Linked DNA regions of Homo sapiens: region 1 is linked to region 2. A link means that fine-mapping ties the variant in region 2 to the expression of a gene that starts in the linked region. Tissue or cell type: subcutaneous fat. Region 2 holds a variant in brackets; the other region holds the start of a gene. All regions are shown on one strand. Distances are from middle to middle.

Region 1 (8,000 bases), 29 kb before region 2:
CCCATGAGTGGGCCTGCCCAGCATTAGCTGAGTGCCTTCTGTGTGCTCTACGCCAGGTGCCAAGGGCAGGCCAGCCAGGCAGAACCATGTGTGGGGCTGGGACAGGTCAGGGTGGTGGAAAGGTGGACAGAAGGAGGCAGGAGGCAGGTGTGAGAAGCTGCCCACCCCACCCCTCAACACCACAGCACTTCCAGCTCCAGCAGGTCCTTGTTCTCAGCTGCCCCTGAGCCATGGGTGGCCAGGTCTCCTCCCCATCACCCCACTGAGACTCGAGACAGGGAGGACCTGATCCTGGAGTCCCTCCCAGCCCTGGCTGAGGAAGCCACCCAACCCGACAATGGGCTTGCGCAAGCCGCGCAGTGACTGCTCCCAGCCTCTCCCAAGGACTTAGGAGCCCAAAGCCGCCTCCCTCCCGGTAAGCATCCCAAGGCATCGCTGGCTGCAGCTGAGAGGGCCTCATTTGGGCACTGCCCTGAGGCTGGCACTTGCAGGTGGGGGCCCTTGGGAGCTCTGGGAGGCACCTGGCAGCCTCCCAGACACCCCGGGCCGGTCCTGCTCTCCAGGCTTAGGGCTACAGCCACAACCACTGGGGGTAGGGGCGAGGGGAGTCCAGGCCCACCCTGTGCTGGCAGCAACTCCTTCCCAGCTCTGGGCCCAGTATGATGCCCATCTTCCCTCTGGGGAGTCACGTTCCTCCCGCTCCGGGCCCGTTCCCACCCAAGGTCCCTTTGCAGAAGACTGGCACTGTCCTCCTCCAGCGGGAACTGGGTGTGCCCTCAGCAAGACTCTGCCCCCTCCCATCCTCATGTTCTCAGGAGACTGAAGCTGGGCACTCAGAACCAGCCCCAGGAGCAGAACGCAGGCCTGCATATAGACTCACTGCAAGGAGACCCCTGGGGTGGAGACCCTCATTCCCTGATCCCCCAGGGGTCCTGCATCAAAGCTCTGGAGATGCAATTTCCAGCAGGGGCTCCCCTGACCAGGGCCATACTTTGGGGCCGGGACAATCCTACCACATGGATATGTCACCATCCTGCCCATGCGGGATGGCTTGAAGGGTTTCTCAGGACACCAGAGCTGGGAGCACTGGTCAGGTGGGGGCCTCAGGTGCAGCGTGACCGCTGGCACCAAAAGGTCTCACGCCCCCGAATGCCCCATTCACAGCAGGGGCAGGTGCTCCCTGGGCTACCTGCATCGGGGATGGATTGGTGCGTGTTGGGCTGACCCCTGCTTCCCAGGCCTGGGGTGGGGTCCCTGGGAGTCCACACACCCAGCTGGGGCTTCCACCCTGCCCTCCCAGTGGGTGCATCCCCAGGTGGAAGGTGATGGAGGGACCCACTCACTGTGCGCATCCCGCTGCGGGGGAGGGGCTGGGTCTCCGCCCTCCCCACCCCACCCTCCCCACTCCCGCCCCCGCACGGCCACGAGAGGGTGGCATGCTCCGCCTTCCCACGCCCAGGCCCGCGCCGGCCCCAGGCTGCTCCCAACCCCCAGCCTGTGCGCGCATCCCCCAGTCCTGCGTCTTTTGCCTTGCTCGGCTGGGTCCTGCTGTGGTTGGGGACCAGGACTCGGGGGACCACCTGCTCTGCCCCTTTCCCTCCCTGCCCAGAATAGCGCTGGCCGGGTCAGCGTCCAGGACCCACCAAATATAGCATGGCCCTAGCTCCTGCCAGCTTCAGGCCTGGTGCCCTCCCCGTGAGGGGGTGGGAAACGTCAAGGGGTTTGACTGAGAGGACACACACCCCTTGCTGGACCCGAAAAAGCTTCTGTGACTTCGGGGGCCCTGGGGCCTGCTGAGGCAGAGCCGCCCCCTCCCCTGCAGGGGGTGGCTCCAACTCGGGCCTGGCAGACTTCCTAGCACAGGGGCCGGTGCCAAAGGCCCTCCTCCCACAGCCCTGATCCCGTACCGGTCCTGGCAGCTCCTGGCCTCAGTAGGAAGCGTGACTAGGCCTGGAGGAGCCTTTCCTCCTAAGAGTCTCCCCACCACCCCACCTGCGGGCATTCCTTGTCTTCCCCCTGCCCCAGCACACCAGGGGCAGACTGAGGCAGGGGCCTCTCCTAGGGCTTCCCAGAAGGTGGGCTTGGCCACAGCTCCCATCTGCTCAGTGCTCCCTGCCTGACTGGGCCCCTCCCCATAAATAGCCCTGGACAGGCGAGGGGCTGATCAGCCCATCAAAGCCGGACACTTTTGGGATCCCACACAGCATCGAAAGGTCAAGGCCTCGAAGTGAGGTCGTGTGGTGGTTGGGGGAGGTCGGGTGTCTTCTTGCCCACAGTCCTGACCCTGGGCATGGCTGAGGAGGTCGCAGGGAGTGTGGAGGGTGAGGCAGGGTGAGCTGGGTGCGAGGGTGTAGCAGTGTGTCTCGAGAGCTTTGTTCTTGAGTGGGTCTGCCTCGGGGGCTTTAGAGGAGACCCCAGAGGGTGGCCAGGAGGATGGGGGCCAGGGCCAGGGTGGCCGGGGTGGCAAGGCCGGTGCCGTTGCAGAGGTCGTACTGGCAGCAGGAGGTGGTGGACGCGTGCTTGGAGTAGCCATCATACACAGTCTCGAAGCAGCGGGGCACGCAGGACTTACTGACCTTCATCCTGGTGGGGGTGTAGTCTGCAGAGGGGCGGGGCGGTGAGCCAGCTCCGCTAAGAGGGGCAGGAGACCCAGCTGGCCCCACCCCAGCATCCACAGCCATCAGGGCAGGGCCCCTCAGCCTGGAGCTCCCAGACAGGATCCGGGAACAGGAGAGCCTCCTTCCTCAGGACCCCCGCATGCTCAGGGGCAGGGCAGAACCTCCCCTTCGTGCTCCCCAGGCAGGGCCACGCAGGGCCCCCAGACTCACAGGTGCGCGTGGTCATGCAGTAGGCAACCATAGCCGGGCAGCGCATGGGGTTGAAGCAGTTGTCTCCGTTGTAGGCACACACGTGGCAGTCCAAGGCCTGGGCTGGGGTTGGCAGATGGGCGGGAAGGGAACGGGGGTCACAGAACATGAGAGGCCCCTCCTCCAGCCCATCAGGCCCCCAGCCCGTCACCTTCCCCGGGGCAGGGGGCTAGAAGGAGGGGTTGTCGCTGGGAATTCTAGCCTCCTTCCCTACTGTCAGCCCATCTGCCCTCAAAGTGGGTCTGCCCATCCCTCTGTCCTTTGTCCATCTTACCCAGAGGTAAGCCCATGAGGACCACCAGGATCAGGGTGAGCAGGGGCGTCATGGCTGCAGGCAGGAGGGCAGCGTGGGAGTGGGGAGGTCAACAGCAGCTAGCCCTGGATCCAACTCAGGGGTGGCGCACAGAGGATCCAACTCAGGGTGGTGCGCAGAGGACGTGGGGCCGGCCCTGCCTCCCGGAGCTCCTGGTCTACTGGGAGTGCTGCAACCCTGCACAGCAGGTGGCAAAGACAGGTGGTCAGTACTGGGCCTGAAGGACCCATGGGGGCCTGGGCAGGGATGATGGTGGGCAGAGGGGCCACCTAACTCAGTGGGTGTCAGGGAAGGTTTCCTGGAGGAGGAGACACTTGGGATGGGACAAGAAGGGAGAAGAGATCAGGACATTTCAATCAGAGACCAGCACCTGCAAAAGCTCAAAACAGCCTGTAGCGCTGGATGGAGGAGAGATGGGGGGAGGATGAGGGGCAGTGCTAGAGAAGGAGTAGGGATGGGCAGAGGGGCCTTAAATACCAGGCCTAAACAAGGATTTTACCCAGGGGATGGTTGGTGCAGAGGTCCCATGGGAGGTGGTCTGCAGCCCCATCCCAAGCAGGGCCCTGGGGGCCGGATGGCTGGCCATGGCAGGACTGGGCCCAAAAGCTGGGTCTCTTCTCGCTGTTCCCCTCCTCTCTGCTCCTGGGGTGTCCCTACTTGGGGTTCCTTCTTCCAGAAGACCTCCAGAGCCCTGGTTAGGGTTGTCTGAGTCCTCGGCCACTGCAGAAGCTCCCCAGCAGGGATGAGCTGTGCCCAGCTTGGGGGGAATGCATTTTGAGCCCCTCCCAGGAGGGCACTTGGGCCAGACAAGAAGAAGCATTTCCCCGGCTGGGTCTGGTGTTTGGAACGGGAATGCCCTCTCTGGAAAGAGGTTTACAGTGGGGAGGTGGGGGTTGGATTACGGCTCTCCTACCCCTGCCGGGATACTCGGCCCTCGGTCTCCGTCCTGGAGGACTAAATTAAACTTACGCCTTCCCGAGAACAACAAATCCGTCTCTCACGACACATTTGCCCAGGCCAACCCCAGGATGCCAAAGGCCAGAGTCAGGCCTGCGGCTTCGAGCTTCCCAACCCCCTCACGGAGAGCCCCGCCCCAAACACTGCGGTCCCAGGTCGAGGGGAGGGCTCTCGGCGCGAGCGGGACTATCAGGGTGACCTCACCTGTGACCTTCACCACCGTGAGGTACCGCCGCGCCTGGGAGTCACCCGCGGCCGCTCGCCGGTAGGTGCCTGCCTGAGTCTAATCGTAGGCGTGTCTGTGTGTCCCGCAGCACCCGTGCCGCATCGCCTGATGCTCACCGCAGGCCCAGCCCAGTCCCGCCCCCGGAACAGCCCGCCCAGCGCGAGCTCACCGCAGGCCCCGCCCCAGGCCTGCCCCGGCCCCACCTCCTGAGCAACCCCCCGAGCCGAGCTCACCGCAGGCCCCGCCCCGGACCCGCCTCCTGGGCTACTCACCAAGCCGCGCTCACTGCAGGCCCCGCCCCTGCCCCGCCTCCTGGGCACCCGCCGAGCCGAGTTCACCGCAGGCCCCGCCCCGGACCCGCCTCCTGGGCACCCGCCGAGCCGAGTTCACCGCAGGCCCCGCCCCGGACCCGCCTCCTGGGCACCCGCCGAGCCGAGTTCACCGCAGGCCCCGCCCCGGACCCGCCTCCTGGGCACCCGCCGAGCCGAGTTCACCGCAGGCCTCGGCCCGGACCCGTCCCCGGACCGCCGGCTCGCCGGGCAAGCGCTGGGACCCCGAGGCCAGTCCAGGCATCTGGATCTCCGACACAGAGGCAGCCACGCAGTGATTCCCTGGCGACCCTCAGACTCACGTGTTCAGCCCGGACACTCCGCAGGCTATCTTCACCGCGTCCCGCGGCAGCCCAGCCTTCCCCGCAGCCGCCTCCGCCCACTCGCCCGCGCCGCGTCGTTTGTCGGCCGGCACCAGCCTTGCGGCCCCAGCTCCGCCCTCCTGCAGCCCAGGCCCAGCAGCTCCGGAACTGGCGCCCTTTGGCGCACCCGCCTCGCTGCCCATGGCCTCCGCCTGCCTCCCCTGCGCTCAGCTCCCGCTTCTGGTCCCTGTAGCAAAGCTGGAAGGCAGGCCTGCAAGGCAGCCCCTTGCTCCGTGGTCCCTCTCACCATCATAATGTTCATATTAAATAATTATCTTTACATAACTTTGAATACTTATGTTATTGGTTCTGTTTTTGGCAAAATGTAATAAAATTTCATGGGTCCGAAAGTTTTCATTTTTTCCAATGTGAGAAAGAAAAATAAAACCTTTTCTTCTACCCTAAAGCTCATTTTTTTCTTTAAAACATTTTTGCGGGCCTGAGGTACAGAATACACCATGCCTGCTGGGCAAGCGGGCTCCGGTTCCAGGAAATCCTTCGGTCCCCAGCAAACTAGGCCAGTTAGTTGTTCTGTTTGCCGAGAGGTAATGCGCACCCTCCTGTGCCAGGTCCTAGTTGGGGAGAAGGCAAAGAATAAAACCAGCAGACGTTCCAGAATATTCCCACCCCATGGAGCTCACACTCTGGTGGGATAAGGGGCGTGGAAGGAACGCATAGGTCAGAACCAGAGTATGTCGCGGTCTTCAGCCTCAGACCACGATGAATTAATACGGATGAAACTTCCCTTGCCCGCCCGCCAGCGCTCGCCTCCTGCTGTGTGGCGTGGTTCCTAACCGGTCTGTGACCCAGGGGTTGGGGACCTTTATGTTAAAGGAAGTTCTTCAGGCAGAAATACGGATCTACACAAAGGAATAAATGACACCAGAAATAGGAAATAGAAGGTAATTTTTTTCTTATTTTTGAATCAAGTTAAAAGATAGTTGATTACCTAAAGCAAAAATAATAACAATGTATTAAGGAATTTATAGCAAATGTAGAAGTAAATTGTATGATAATAGTAGTGCAGGCTGGGCACCGCGGCTCACGCCTGTAATCCCAGCACTTTGGGAGGCTGAGGCGAGTGGATCGCTTGAGCCCAGGAGTTCAAGACCAGGCTTGGCTGGGCAACGTAGAGAGACCTCATCTCTAAAAAAAAAAAAATACCAAAAAATTAGCTGGGTGTGGTGGTGCACACCTGAGGTTGCACCCAGGAGGCTGAGGTGGGAGAATCACTTGAACCCAGGAGGTGGAGGTTGCAGTGAGCTGTGATCACGCTACTGCACTGAAGCCTGGGTGATAGAGCAAGACGCTGTGTCAAATAAATTTAAAAAAAAATAGTAATACAAATAGACCAGGAGAGGGACAATGGAAGTTCACTGTTGTAGATTTATTCTACTCTATGTGAAGTGGCCTACTATTTCTTGGAGGTAGACTAGTAAGTCAAAGGTGTATGCTAAGACGCTAAAGTGTCACTAAAAAAAGACAAAGAAAAAAGCAAAAGTCAAAGCACTGTAGTTAATAAATCAACAAAAGTGATGATACAGAATTATTTATTTATAAAAGCACATGTTACAGAGACTGCAGAAGAGGAGAAAGGAAAAAACAATGAGACAAATAGAAAACAAATAGCAAGATGACATATATTTAAACCCAGCCACAGCAATAATGACACTATGTCATCTAAACACTTCAATCAGGCTGAGCACGGTGGCTCACACCTGTAATCCTAACCTGTAATCCCAACACTTTGAAAGGCTGAGGAAGGTGGATCACTTGAAGTCAGGAGTTCCAGACCAGCCTGGCCAACATGGTGAAACTCCCTCTCTACTAAAAAATACAAAAATTAGCTGGGCATGGCGGTGGGTGCCTGTAATCCCAGCTACTTGGGAGGCTGAGGCAGGAGAATTGCTTGAACCTGGGAGGCAGAGGTTGCAGTAAGCTGAGATGGTGCCACTGCACTCCAGCCTGAGCGACAGAGTGAGTGAGACTCTGCCTCAAAAACAAACAAAAACATCTCAATTAAAAACAGAGGTTGTCAGATTGGATAAAAATAGAAACAGCCAAGTATATGCTGTCAGTGGGAAACTCACCAGACATGTAAAAACACAAATAAGATAAAAGTAAAAAGATGGAGAGAGATATACTATGCTAACACCAATTAAAAGAACACAGACATGACTACGTCAATATCAAAGTAGGTTTAAAGCAAAGACTATAATCAGAAATAAAGAGGAGCATTACTGGCCAGGTGTAGTGGCTCTCATCTGCAATCCCAGCACTTTGGGAGGCTGAGGTGGGAGGATTGCTTGAGGCCAGGAGTTTGAGACCAGCCAGGGCAAAACAGCAAAACACTATCTGTACTAGAAAGAAAGAAAAAAAATTTAAAAAGAGGGACATTACCAAATGATAAATTGATCAGTTCATGAAGAGGACTCAGCAGTTCTAAATATGTATGCACCTAACAATTAAGCTTCAAAATACACAAAGCAAAACAAACAACATCTGATAGAACTGAAAGGAGAAAAAGAAAATCCACAATAACAGAGATTTCAACACTCCTCTTTCGAGAACTGATAAAAAATAGACAAAAAGTCTGTAAGGATGAAGACGTGGATCACATTACCAGTCAACATGACCAACTTGATGTTTGTAGGACACTCCACCTCACAGAAGGGGAACACACCTTTATTTACCAATAATGTCCTCCAAGGCAGACTGTATTCTGGGCCATAGAACAAATCTCAGTAAATTTATACGGATTAAAATCATGCAGATTATTTGCTTGGACTACAATGGAGCTAAATTAGAAATCAATAACAGAAATATATCTAAAAGATCATCAAATATTTAGAAACTGAGTAATAACATATTTCTAAACAACTTATAGGTCAAAGGAGAAACCAAAAAGGAAATCAGAAAATATTTCCAACTGAATGAAAATGCAAA
Region 2 (8,000 bases):
TGAATGTCAGGCTGTCAGCATGAGGGAGGGATATGTGTGGGGCAGGTGTAGGCTGCCCCAGGTCTCACGAAGGGTCTTCCCAGCCACTTTTCTTCCCACGGCTTCCCTAGCACCTGTAAACTCATGCACACATCTGCCTCCCTGCCCTCTGAAACTGCCACTGGGTAGAGGACTGGGGATGCTAGAGAATGTAGTGGAGCCACATCAGCTAAATCAGGAGAAAGATGGATGGATGAAGGGGTGGTTGTTAGGTGGGTGGATGGGTGGGTGGGTGGGTAGGTGAACGAGTGGAAAGGTGGATGGGTGGGTGGATGGATGGAAGGGTGAACGGGTGGGTGGTGGGTGGGTGAGTGGATAAAAGGGTGGGTGGGTGGATGGATGGATGGATGGGTGGTCGGAAGCATGGGTGGGTGGATAAGTGGAAGAGTGGATAGTGGGTGGATGAATGGAAGGGTGAATGGGTGGGTGAGTGGGTGGAAGGGTGGATGGGTGAGTGAGTGGATGGAAAGGTGGATGGGTGAAAGGGTGGATGGATGGGCAGGTGAATGGGTGAAAGGGTGGGTGGATGGATGGGTGGGTGTAAGAGTGAATGGGTGGGTGGATGGGTGGGTGCGTGGATGGATGAAAGAGCAAATGGATGGATGGAAGGGTGGATGGGTGGGTGGATGGCTGAGTGGGTGGATGGGCAGGTGGACGAGTAGAAGGGAGGAGGGGTGGGTGGATGGATGGATGGGTGAATGGATGGGTGGATGGGAGGGTAGATGGGTGGGTGGATGGTGGATGAATGGGTGGGTGGATGGATGGAAGGGTGAATGGGTGGGTGGGTGGATGGGTGAGTGGGTGGATGGATAGAAGGATGGATGGGTGGGTGCGTGGATGGTTGGATGGATGGATGGAAGGGTGGTTGGGTGGGTGGGTGGATGGGCAAGTGGGTGGATGGAAGGATGCATGGGTAGAGTGGCAAATGGTGGAGAGAAGGGATGGGGCAGCATGACGCATACAAGGAGGGGTAACTTCAAGGTGACCTGTGTTATACTTCTTACTGTCCCCATCTTCTGTCTGAATCAAAGTTTCCTCACCTACCAAATGGGAGTAATAACAGCCCATGCTGTGGTCTTTTGGGAGGATGAAATGATGAAATGCACAAAACATTGGCCCCTGCCCCACCCTTCTTTACTGGAAAAGGATTGCAGGAAGCTCCAGGCAGGGAAGCCAGAGGCAGCTGGGTTGCCTTTCCTAGGGCAGGTGTGGCTCTGGGGACTTCACATACAGAAGGTGCTTAAGGGCTGTTGAGAGGGCTATCTGCCTGAAGCCTGCTGGTGATGCCCATACCCCAGCCATGTAGGGATCTGCAGCCAGGCCCTGGTCCAGGCTGCAAGTGGGAGGAACATGGGTGGGCTGTGTTCCTGGCTGGCACCTGTGTGCTGTGTGGTTGCCCCCAGCTTCCAACGACATTGAGGACTGGGTCCACGGGCTCCATGGACAAGGCTGAGATGTACAGTCATGGGGACCTATGGAAGAAGGGCAAGGTACAATGGATGCCCTGGGGAGACACTTGGCCAAGAGGGAACACAGTTTTGATAGAGGGCAGGGAGATCTGGGAAGGCTTCCTGGAGTGGGTGGCCCTGTAGGGACATGGGTGGTGGATTTCTATTTGTAGTTGGAGGAGAGACATTTGGACAGAAGGTGCAGCAAGGAAGAGGGAAGGCCAGATTGTTCAGGGTGTGAGGCCCCAGGAGCTGTGACAGGGCGTGACAGTGGGTGGAGAAGCCAGAAACACCACATCCTGGTGTGGAGGCTGTGCTGCCTGGAAAGGCATCTTTGAGCCTTTTGTACCAGGACTTGGGGGTGGAGGTAGTGAGAAAGGTGCCCTATAGGGGGTATCCTGTAGGTGGTGTCCTGTAGGGGTGTCCTGTAGGTGGTGTCCTGTACGAGTGTCCTGTAGGGGATGTCTTGTAGGGAGTGTCCTGTAGGGGTGTCCTGTAAGGGTGTCCTGTAGGGGGTGTCTTGTAGGGAGTGTCCTGTAAGGGTGTCCTGTAGGGGGTGTCCTGCAGGGAGTGTTTTGTAGGAGCGTCCTGCAGAGTGTCCTGTAGGGAGTGTCCTGTAGGGGATATCCTGTACAGGTGTCCTATAGGGATCGTCCTGTAGGGGTGTCCTGTAGGGGGTGCCCTGTAGGGAGTGTCCCGTAGGGGGTTTCCTGTAGGGAGTGTCCTGTAGAGGTTTCCTGTAGGAGTGTCTTGTAGGGGTTTCCTGTAGGGAGTGTCCTGTAGGGGGTGTCCTGTACAGTGTCCTATAGGGGTGTCCAGTAGGGGTGTCCTGTAGGGGTGTCCTGTAGGGAGTGTCCTGTAGGGGGTGTCCTGTAGGGAGTGTCCTGTAGGGGGTTTTCTGTAGGGAGTGTCCTGTGGAGGTTTCCTGTAGGAGCGCCTTGTAGGGGTTTCCTGTAAGGCAGGTCCTGTAGGGGTTTCCTGTAGGGAGCCTGTAGGGAGTGTCCTGTAGAGGTTTCCTGTAAGAGTGTCTTGTAGGGAGTGTCCTGTAGGGAGCGTCCTGTAGGGGGTGTCCTGTTCAGGTGTCCTATAGGGGGTGTACTGTAGGGGTGTCATATAGGGGTGTCCTGTAGGGGTTTCCTGTAGGTGGTGTCCTGTAGGGGGTGTCCTGTAGGAGGTTTCCTGTAGGGAGTGTCCTGTAGGGAGTGTCCTGTAGAGGTTTTCTGTAGGAGTATCTTGTAGGGTTTTCTTGTAGGGAGTATCCTGTAGAGAATGTCCTGTAGGGAGTGTCCTGTAGAGGGTTTCCTGTAGGGAGTATCCTGTAGGGAGTATCCTGTAGGGAGTGTCCTGTAGGAAGTTTCCTGTAGGGGTTTTCTGTAGGGAGTATCCTGTAGGGAGTGTCCTGTAGGAGGTTTCCTGTAGGGGTTTTCTGTAGGGAGTGTCCTGTAGTGGTGTCCTGTAGAGAGTGTCCTGTAGGGAGTATCCTGTAGGGAGTATCCTGTAGGAGGTGTTCTGTAGGGACGCCCTGTAGGGAGTATCCTGTAGGGGGGTCCTATAGGAGGTGTTCTGTAGGGGTGTCCTGTAGGAGGTGTTCTGTAGGGGTGTCCTGTAGGAGGTGTTTTCTAGGGGTGTCCTTTAGGGGTTTCCCGTAAGGGGGGTTTGTGGGGGTTTCCTGTAAGGGGTGTCCTGTAGGGAGTGTCTTCAAGCAGTGCCCCTGTACGGGGGTCCTGTAGGGGTGTCCTGAAGGGGTTTCCTGTAGGGGGTGTTCTGTAGGGGCGTCCTGTAGAGATGTTCTGTAGGGGTGTCCTCTAGGGGTGTTCTGCAGGGGTGTCCTGTAGGGGTTTCCTGTAAGGGTGTCCTGTAGGGAGTGTCCCGTAGCAGTGCCCTGTACAGGGGTCCTGTAAGGGTGTACTGCAGGCGGTGCTCTGTAGGGAATGTCCTGTAGATGTGTCTTTTATGGGGTATTCTGTAGGGGATGTTGTTTAGGGGGTGTTCTGTAGGGGTGTCTTTTAGGTATGTTCTGTAGGGGTTTTCTATAACGGGTGCCCTGTAGGCTTCCTGTAGGGTGGTCTTGATGGGGGTGTCCTGTAGCAGTTCCCTGGGCAAAGCACACCTGCTCTGACTTCAGAGCGAGTGCCTGCTGCGTGGGGTGATTGCATCTTCCGCACCTGTGCAGCTGATATCCATGTTCTTGGGGTCTGACCCTGACCTTTCTTGCTCTCCCTGCCTACAGCTGGGTTCCTGGTGCTGGTGGGGCCGGGAAACACTCCTAGGTTCCTCTGAACAAGGACCTTACATTACCGCCACTTCTCCGTAGGGATCCTGGTAATCCCTAAGCCCTCGGGCTGTGATGGGAATGAAGGGGTCACCCTCATTAGATCCTGGGAGCAGTGACCAGCTCCCAGCAGGTGCTGTCTGACCGTCAGCATCATATGGGCCAACTTTCCAGAAAAGCAAAGTAAGCCCCAGAGAGCACAGGTGTCCCAGGCCAGTGTCCCCATGTCCTGACTTAGCACCCTTGGCCCCTTCTCTCCCATGGTTGTGCCCTGATATATGGAAGGGTTGTGCCCTTCCGTATAGGGGCTGGAGGGATCCGATCAGCTTGGGCAGCCTGACCTTGACTCCTGCCCTTTCCTGATGCCCCCTCCATCTGTCTTTCCAGCCTTCCCACTGCAGGCCCCTCCTCAAGCTGGGGCTGCTCTCCAAAGTCTCCAGCCCTCCCCACTTCCCCCCTACCCTCACCCCACGCTCAGGAGAAGCTGATGGGGCTAATTATCGCTAGATGATAATTTTTCAGCTGATAATCACATGCTCTGTCCCTCCCACCCACACCCCCTGCCTCCTGGCCCCTTTTCAGGCCCCAAAGCCAGGTCATCAAGGTCAGGGTAGAGTGGGGCTAGGGCGGTGACCAACTAGCCCTGGTTTTCTTAGGACTTTCTTTTTTAGCACTCAGAGTCCAACATCCCAAGAATTCCCCTCTGTCTTGGGAAAAGGGGGATGGAACCCAGGCTGGAACCCAGGACCAGCATCGGGGCTTTCCCCACACAAGCCACAAAGACACCAGAAGCTGTGCCCATAGGAAGAGGCCTCCCCCAACTCCCTGCAGCCCGCAGTCCAGGCTGGTGATCCTTGGCAAAGCCTGCCCTGCCAGCGCCCGGTCCCGGGGTGCCCAGCCCAGGAGCCACCTGCCCCTGTCCCTCCCCTGGTGTGGCCAGCGTCTTACCCAGGGCAGCACACACAGCAGCCAGAAGCAGCAGCACCAGGAGAAGCCTCATCGCGGGGTT[G/T]TCCGCCAGGGACTGGGAGCCACAGTGCAAAGGCGCCTTTATATGGTGGCCGGCGACTGAGCCAGACCTGGTAATTTAGCCGGAAGATGCGCTGGGGAGAGCAGGGCCGGCCTGACTCATGCCACTAGGCCTCACTCTGCCCCACCTCCAGGACTCTCAGAAGGCTCCTGTGCCCCCCTCTCTGCTGTCCCTTGGTCCTGAGCCTCTGGGCCCCTACTCCCTGCAGCTTGGGCCCTGTCCTGGGTGTTCTCAGAGGGTCATGGCTCTACCTCTGCAGCCTGGGGGGACTGCCCAGCGCACTTGTGAGTACGTACAGCCCCCTCCCCGCTGCTTCTGAGTATGTGCAGCCCCTCCCCGCCGCTTCTGAGTACGTACAGCCCCCTCCCCGCCGCTTCTGAGTAGGTACAGCCTCATCCCTGGTGCTTCTGAATATCTATGGCCCCCTCCCCTCTGCACTCTCCCTTGCACCAGGGTAGGCAGGGGTCACCAAACCCATTCTAATGGGGAAACTGAGGCACTGGAGGCTGGAAGCTTTGAGCCAGTGCTTCTTAATCTTCAGTGTGCACACAAATCACCTAGGATCCGGTCGAAATGCTGGCTGTGGAGGCCTGGGCGGGGCCTGGAATGGTGCAGGCTCCTTGGGGTGGTGTTGCCTGTCTAGGGTAGGCTTAGCTTGGGCCAGTGGCAGAGCCAAGGTGCACAGGGCAGCCTGGCCATGTCTGAATCACTACCCATCCAACCCCAGGCCAGGCCTGGGGGACTGTGGGGTGACAGGGATATTCTAGGGTCACGGGACATGGCCTGTTTACAGTGGGGCTGGCCCCATTTCTATCCTCAGGGTCTCTCTGGGGTTCTGGAGGCTGAGGGGCAGCAGCTCACAAGCTCAAATCCCCTGGGAGTCTCTCCTCCAACCCCCAATGTCTCCCTGCTTCAGGATGGCTCCCCTTCTGGTCTCCTTCCACCTCCCCCTCCTCATCCTGTCTGCCCTCCCCACTGGGATTGGCTCCAGTCCTCTCTACCCCTTGCATGAGACACTTACACTCACCTTCAGCCTTTCCCAGGCCTTCCCTTGTACCCTGAACACGCTTCTCCCCTGCTGCCCCATCAGCAAGATTGCCTTGTCTGGAGCACTCTGTATCCCCTCTGTCTGGACCTGTGCCCTAGAGGTGCCCCTGAGGGCCTGAATCCCATTCCCGACCTCTGCACAGACCCAAGAGCCCAAGGGCCCTCTTCTCCATCCACCCTCGGAAGCTAGGCCAAGCTGCTGGGCACCCACCCCAAGGCTGGAAGGTGGGGCTGGATGCCCAGGTCGGGGCCATGCAGGATGTCGGGGGGTGGGGCAGGCAAGCTCCAGGGCTGGGACTGGCTCTCTCTGCAGCCATCTCCCAGCATGAAGGCCAAGGAGTCTGGAATTTGAATGAACACCAGGCTTTCCCTGTGGTGTTGATGTTATATTTGTCAACAGTATTTTATTTTAACTGTTTTTTAGCTCCTTTGAAAACTTACATATCTGGGGACACACATGGCATGTGGGCTCCCATTGCCTTGACCCCCAGTGGAAAGGAAGGATCATTTCCTTTCAGCTCCTCTTGCTCCGCTCACTCCAGGTCACCTCTGGGCTTAGCGGCTTCCTGGCCATGGGTCATGGCAGCGTGTGAGCTGCAAAGCTGCCATGGGACAGGGACTGGACTCTGGGGCGGGCACCTTTGCAGACACAACCTCAGTCCTCAGCCCAGGCCTGGGAAGGTTTCCTCATCCACCCCTTGGTGGGGTTGAGGGTCAGGGCCGGTGGGAGGAACCGAGACCCGTGGTGTAACAGGACAGCTGGGCGTTGCAGGCCCTGACACAGCCTCTGAGGGGAGGGGAGGGGGCTCCACACACACCTGCCAGGAGGCCCCTTATGGGTACTTTGAGGCAGGGAGCATTTCTTCAGCTTCCCTGCAGGGCCCTGCCCCAGGAAGAAAGGCATGGTGAGCTGCCAGTGCCACCGTGGATGGCACAGACTGTGATGTGCCCTTCCTCCCCCCATCCCAGTGCCACAGGGCTCTGAGTCTGTGAAAGCAAAGAAGGGGCAGGGTCGCAGCAGCAGCAGCAGTGGGCTGGGGAGAGATCCCCGGTGCTGGGCTCCACCTGCCCTGAGTAGTAACCAATCTGCACAAGGCTGGGCCCCTTCCGCTGCAGAGGCAGGACAGGGGCTGGGGCGGATGGGTGCCTGTGTGAGTGTGACTGTGTGTGAGGCTGTGTGTGAGTGTAAGACTGTGAGAGTGTGAGTGTATGAGAGTGTGAGACTGAGTTAGTGTATGAGCATGTGTGTGTATGAGTGTGTGTATGAGTGTGAATGACAGTGAGTGTATGAGTGTTAGTGTGAGAATGTGTGAATATGAGTGTGTGTTAGTATAGTGTGAGTGCATGTGTATAAGTATGTGAATGAATGAGTGCATGTGAGTGTGTTAGTGTATGAGCTTGAGTGTGTGTGAGTGTATGGGGATGTGTGAGTGTATGAGTGTGTGAATGACAATAAGTGTATGAGTGTGTGTGAGTGTGTGTGTAAGGTGTGTGTGGATGTAAGTGTGTTAGTATAGTGTATGAGTGTGAGTGCGTGTGTATAACTGTGTGTATGTGAGTGAATGAGTGTGTGAATGAGACTGTGTAAGACTGTGTGTGTGATGCTATGTGTGAGTGTACAAGTGTGCACGAATATGTGTGTGAATGACAGTGTATGAGTGTAAGTGTGAGAGTTGAGTGTGTTAGTGTGAGTGTATGAGTGCATGTATATGAGTGTGAGAGTGAATGTGAAAGTGTGTGTGCAGTGAGTGTATGTGTGTGAAAGTGTGAGTGTCAGTGTATGCGTGTGAGAATGTGAATGAGTGTGAACGAGTGTGTGTGTGTGTGAGTGAGCATAGTGTATGAATGTGAGTGTGCAAGTGTGAGTGTGAGGATGCGAGTGTGGTGCATGTGTATATGTGAGTGAATGTGAGTGTGTGTATAAGTGTGAGAGTGAGTGTGAGAATGTGTGTGAGTGTGTTAGTATAGCATGAGTGTATGAGTGAGAAATGAGTTCATGTGTATGAGTGTGTATGTGAGATTGAATATGAGTGTGAAAGTGTCAGTGAGTGTATGAGTGTGTGTTAGTATGAGGATGTATGTGAGACTGAATGTGTGTGTGACAGTGTGACTAAGTGTGAGAGTATGTGTGTGTGCATAAGTGTGTGTGTGAGAAACAGTGTGAGCG

Direction of the effects. Positions count from the first base shown, and alleles are read on the strand shown. Sizes are in standard deviations (SD) of each study's normalised expression.
As copies of T replace G in region 2, the expression in subcutaneous fat of the gene that starts at base 4,438 in region 1 goes down (moderate effect, 0.68 SD a copy in GTEx).

What was found. PIP is the estimated chance that this variant, and not a neighbour inherited with it, causes the effect.
Region 1: LYNX1 starts here. The variant in region 2 is fine-mapped to the expression of LYNX1 in subcutaneous fat (GTEx, PIP 0.93).

The regions. Positions count from the first base shown.
Region 1 is chr8:142,772,765-142,780,764 of GRCh38, forward strand. LYNX1 (Ly6/neurotoxin 1) reads right to left here and starts at 4,438. Exons shown (of 4, transcript NM_177477.4): 1 at 4,342-4,438; 2 at 3,142-3,357; 3 at 2,829-2,930; 4 at 1-2,599. The coding sequence starts at 3,193. The coding sequence ends at 2,403. It overlaps LYNX1-SLURP2 (LYNX1-SLURP2 readthrough), which reads right to left and starts at 5,108. Exons shown (of 5, transcript NM_023946.5): 1 at 4,995-5,108; 2 at 3,142-3,357; 3 at 2,829-2,930. The coding sequence starts at 3,193.
Region 2 is chr8:142,801,384-142,809,383 of GRCh38, forward strand. No RefSeq gene overlaps it. Among named protein-coding and RNA genes, the nearest start is that of LY6D, 19 kb to the left of the region's middle. The variant G/T (reference allele first, on the strand shown) is at 4,769.